Linked DNA regions of Homo sapiens: region 1 is linked to region 2. The links come from fine-mapping of genetic effects on gene expression. Tissue or cell type: pancreas. Region 2 holds a variant in brackets; the other region holds the start of a gene. All regions are shown on one strand. Distances are from middle to middle.

Region 1 (2,674 bases), 90 kb before region 2:
TTTTTTGAGATGGAGTCTCGCTCTTTCGCCCAGGCTGGAGTGCAGTGACGCGATCTCTGCTCACTGCAAGCTCTGCCTCCCGGGTTCACGCCATTCTCCTGCCTCAGCCTCCCGAGTAGCTGGGACTACAGGCGCGTGCCACCACGTCCCGCTAATTTTTTGTATTTTTTAGTAGAGAAGGGGTTTCACCATGTTAGCCAGGATGGTCTCTTATCTCCTGACCTCGTGATCCACCCGCCTCGGCCTCCCAAAGTGCTGGGATTACAGGCGTGAGCCACCGCGCCCGCCCCTGGAACTCATTTTTTAAAAAATTTTTTTGAGATGGAGTCTTGCTCTGTCACACAGGCTGGAGTGCAGCGGCGTGATCTCGGCTCACTGCAAGCTCCGCCTCCCGGGTTCACACCATTCTCCTGCCTCAGCCTCCCGACTAGCTGGGACTACAGGCGCCCACCACCACGCCAGGCTGATTTTTTGTATTTTTAGTAGAGACGGGGTTTCACGTGTTAGCCAGGATGGTCTCAATCTCCTGACCTCATGATACGCCCGCCTCGGCCTCCCAAAGTGCTGGGATTACAGGCATGAGCCTCAATTTTATATTTTGCCCTAGACTCTTATTCCTTAAATCTTCCTTAAAATAGTGGTTGCAAAATGGAGGCCCATGGGCTGGATTCAGCCTGTAAAACTGTTTTGTTTGGACTGTAGAGTTAAAAAAAACAAACAAACCCTGTATTTCCAGCATCTCATTAAAAATCGTATGAGGCACCGGACTTATAGTGGTACAAGACAGCAACTGTCTCTAGCTGACAGTTGTTTCCTTTAAAAGCCGTTAAGAGTTCTTTAATTTGCGAACCCTCGCCATTCACGGAATACCTGCTTGTGTTCTTGTATTCAGGGCACTGGAGTGCGTGCCAGCTGGTCTGGAAGCAGCTCCAGCAAGTCACTTACACGGTGGCCAGGGGCGGCCTGACTTTCAATCCGAGACCCGCCGGGAATGACTTTGGGATAATCACAACCTCCGGTCCTCAGTTTCCTTACCTGTGAAATGGGGCTGATAACGCACAGCTGTGGGAAGCACCGGCCCAAACGCAGGGCTTGGGGACACGACCACCATCCCCGCCCACGGGTCCCCGCGCCAGGCTTCGCTCTCCACCCCTCCCGCCGCGGGCCCCAGCGCTTCGCCGAGGTCGGCCCCGGGCGCCAAGAGGCGTGGTCGGCCCGAGCGGACCCTCGCGGCGGCCATGGCGTCGGTGGTGGAATACAAGGGCCTCAGGGCCGGCTACCACTGCGGCTACTGCGATTCCAAGGAGGGCAAAGCGTCCTGCGGTGAGTGTTCCCGACGCCGGAGTTGGCGCGGCCGCCGCGCCCCGCACAGGCCCTCGGCGGGGGAAAGGGCAGGCTCGCACCCCGACTCCCGCTTCCCTTCCCCTCTTGACTCTCCCCATCCTGTTTCCCTTCCCGCTCTGTCTCTCCGCCTCACCCTCACTGACGACGGCGGCCCCTTATGGAGAAGGAACGGAAATAGTGGAAAGCTGCCCTCGGTCAAGATGGCGCGGGCGGCGTCAGCTCCAAGAGGCGCCGGGCCGGCCGGGCCTGCGGGCGCCCGAGTGGCTTCGCGCGAGCCTCGGGAGGCTCCCGGGCGGCGCGCTGCATTGTGGGGTGGCGGCGGCGGCCGCGCTAGCGACGCGGGGCCGGGCGGCTGAGCGTTCGCGGGGCCGAGGCCATGGCTTTCTGGGCGGGGGGTTCGCCCAGCGTCGTGGACTATTTCCCTAGCGAGGACTTCTACCGCTGCGGCTACTGCAAGAACGAGTCGGGCAGCCGCTCCAATGGTGAGCGAGCCGGGCCGGCGGGCGTGGGAAGCCGGGCGCCCGGGTCTCGGGATCCCAGGGTCCCCCAGCGAGGACGCGAGGGGGCCGGAGCCCCTGGCCCCAGTGCCACGGCCGAGACGGAGGGGGCACTCTCGGGAGGGCCGCGGCGCCGGCTTAGCGGGGCAGCTTCGCGGTGCCTGTTCTGCAGGAAAATCCTAACCGGTGCCCGTACTCTCGAAATCGTGGTGGTCTCCCCAGAGTCGGGAGACGGACGCCCGTCTGGGGTAGATTGTGTGAGGTGAAGGACGGCGCGCAGTGCCAGGGAACGCCCCAGAGCCGTAGTTAATGGCCGGGGCTGACCGGTGGGTGCTGCGGTGGGAGCGTCCCGGGAGCGAGGGCGAAACGCGGTGCAGAGGGAGCTGTGGGTGTGCACACAGGTGCCGGTCATGTATGAATCAGACTTCCCTGGACGAATGTACAGGAAGGATGAGCCCTTTGCATCTCTGGGTTAAAAAAAAAAAAAGTTAAAAAAAAAAAGGACAAGAAACTGGTGACCGCGGTCGCTACCGGCGAGGGATTCTGTTTGTCCTGATCTGTTTGAAATTTTTACCATTTGCTTATATGCCGTGTCTTTCCTCCACCCACCCGGACGACAGCAAAGCCAGCCCACAAGTTTGTTTTGTTTTTCCATCGTGATTCAGATTTCTTTGGGGGAGATTTGTTGCTGGTAAACAAAACATCGTGTTTATTTCCTCTCTTGCCATGCATTTGCCAATATAGAATGTAGACTCTATTATTTTAATAGAACAGTCTAGCTTTGTGGAAAACGAGATTCGCATGAAAACACACAGGCATTTTCCATGAAAAAG
Region 2 (2,674 bases):
ATTATCACTTCACAATGTGTTATAGATTTTTCTAGGCTTCTCAGATGGATTTTTAAGGGTGAAATTTATTTCTACATAATAAGCTCTGGCCTGTGTCTGAAATATTTCATGGCTCAATAAACTGAGTGATAGTTTAGATATTGATATGGTAAATAATTAATTCCCAGCAAAATTAGCAAGAGTTCTATTGATCACCTTGTATATCCCTGCAAATACTAGAGCTGGAGAGCCGGGAGGGAGCAGGAGAGGAGCCTGAGGTCATGAAAGGTTTGCCAGTTGAGGGTGGGATGGTTGCGGCTGCTCTGCGGTCTTGTCACTTCCTTTTGGTGCTCTTGAGAAGATGAGTTGCGGAGTTTATAGAAAAGGAAAGGCAGCCAGGGGATTGACCTCTTGAAGCAAAATTGGAGAAAGTAGGTTACCAGTTGCTAATTCTGTTATTGATTTTAATGTATTTTGGTGAAATATTTTACCCTCAATTTCTTAAGTTTCTTAAGCAATCCAACAATCAATATAGTTTTATGTTTTTAGATTTATATAATGTAGCCTGTAGATTTTTATTTTTTTATTTTTTTAATTCATTTTTGTAATCAGCCTCTGCTTATCCATAGCCTGTAGATATAAGAATTGTTTGAATTGGGGATCATGAGCATGGCATTTGTTTGCATATTTTTAGAAAGATACATTTTAAAAAGGTAATTACACTCATAGACATGAATAAGACAGGTTTCTGGTTTGTCCAAGCAGACCATAAATAATAAAACAGACAACTTAATTTCAGATACTCCCTAGCACTGTGACACAAATAAAATTAGAGGTGGTGGGCATGAAGCCTGTTTTATATAGATTGGTCTTTCCTCGTAGAGAACAGGTGACATTTCAGGGGCAAAGGAAGAAGAAAAGGAATCAGTCATGTAAAAATCTGAGGGTAGGAAGAAGTTCAAGTGAAGGTTAGCAAATCTAAGTGCCTCGAGGTGGCCAGGAAAAACAAAAATGCCTTTTGGGCTCGGGTGTAGGGAAGGACGTAGAGAGCCTTATGCAAGGGGCACAGAGGCAGGTGGAGTTGGTGAGAAGGAGGCAGGTGGAGTGAGCTGGTGAGAAGGAGGCAGGTGGAGTTGGTGAGAAGGA[C/G]GCAGGTGGAATAGCACTTGTAGGAGGGTGGGGAGGTTGGGTTTTATTTATATGTGGTGCCAACCCACTGCTGGGGTGGGGGATTGGGAGATCTGATTAATATTGTAAAAGATTACTTGGCCTGTTCTGTGGAGATTATGGAGGGGTAAGAGTGGAAACAGGAGGCTGCTGGGAAGCTGCTGCAGTCATCCAAGGGCACCATAATGCTGCTTGACCCAGAATATCTGAGGTGGAGGTGGTAAGAAGTGGTCAGATTCAAGACATATTTTAGAGAGAAAGCCCAAAAGACCTGCTGATGGATTGGACATTGGGATGAGAAGAAAAGAATTAAGGGTGACTCCAAGGTTTGGGGCCAGAACAAATCCGGAGAGAGGTGATGAAATGAACTGACGTGGGCAGGACCAAGTGGATTGGTACCCTGGCTGGGTGGGCCTTCTCGGAATTGGTGGTCTTACGCTTGCTTGTGTCAGTGCATTCTTTCCTCAGTTTGAACTTTGAGAGTGGATTAATTCTGGAAATAGGATTTATTCTGTTATAGGCTAATATTGTTTAGTCTGGTTGGATTTAGAAATAATTTTAATTTAAAAATGAATTCTTACGGTAATAATTCTTTAAGGATTTAAATTTGAAGTAGAAAAATGCACAGAATATTGCATTACAAATACATTTCTTTAGAATTTCAAGCATCAATTGCTACTAATAAAGAAAAGAATACCTTCAAGAAACAAACATAAAAACAAAACTACTTTCCTCATACTTTAGAAATATACTGAAGTTTTACTAAGCACTTTCAAACTAGTCATTTAGCTGGGCAAGTAGAATGAAATTCTGTGCCAAGATTTATCAGGATGCAAATGAAAAAAAATTCATGCATAGGCGTTATAGTGGAGAGACTGACAACTTCTTACGTTTGAGTTACCTGGCTTATTCCAACAAATACAGAAAATGTGGTGAGATAACATGGTATTTCCTGCTGTCTAGTTTTAGGGGAAATAAATATTAAAGTTGTGCCTAGATAAAGGAATGAATTAGATGTCATATGCAGCTGAAAGTCTTTGCATGTAAATGGTCATAATAATAGTTATTCGTCCTGTAATTTATTGGCTTTTGAGTTTTCTAAAATGTGCTGTACTGTTTTTAACCTGTTAAGCCCAGATTCTTTGAGAACCATAGGGCATGATGAATAATAACAGGACACTGTAGATCTCTTTAATTTTATGCTGCTTGAAGTTTAGATCAGCTACTTTGTCCAATAAAGTGTAAAACCTGAACTTAGATGCATTTGCTTAAAATTATGTAGAGGGTTTTATTATTTCTTTAGTAAAAATTGTATAGTGTTTTAAAAGTAGTTTTTCTTTCAATATTTGTAATTTTTTGATAGCTTAATACCAGATTTTATCAAATGTTTACCATCAAATTACACAGATATTTGTACATTAGAACCAGAATTAACTGCCTTCAGCTTTCTTCTTTTTCTTTTCGCAGAGAAATTGCTTTTACTAGGCAGCTTCATGAGAAAACTTCTCAACTCAGCTATTATTATATGGGT

Which allele goes with the higher level. Positions count from the first base shown, and alleles are read on the strand shown. Sizes are in standard deviations (SD) of each study's normalised expression.
In carriers of allele G in region 2, the expression in pancreas of the gene that starts at base 1,639 in region 1 tends to be lower than with C alone (moderate effect, 0.63 SD a copy in GTEx).

What was found. PIP is the estimated chance that this variant, and not a neighbour inherited with it, causes the effect.
Region 1: ATE1 starts here. The variant in region 2 is fine-mapped to the expression of ATE1 in pancreas (GTEx, PIP above 0.99).

The regions. Positions count from the first base shown.
Region 1 is chr10:121,926,996-121,929,669 of GRCh38, reverse strand. It overlaps ATE1 (arginyltransferase 1), which reads left to right and starts at 1,639. Exons shown (of 12, transcript NM_001001976.3): 1 at 1,639-1,826. The coding sequence starts at 1,721. It also overlaps the pseudogene ATE1OSP. RefSeq lists silencers at 1,058-1,357, 1,548-1,967 and enhancers at 873-1,739, 2,278-2,427.
Region 2 is chr10:121,836,754-121,839,427 of GRCh38, reverse strand. ATE1 (arginyltransferase 1) reads left to right here. Exons shown (of 12, transcript NM_001001976.3): 10 at 2,611-2,674. Among named protein-coding and RNA genes, the nearest start is that of ATE1, 90 kb to the left of the region's middle. The variant C/G (reference allele first, on the strand shown) is at 1,126.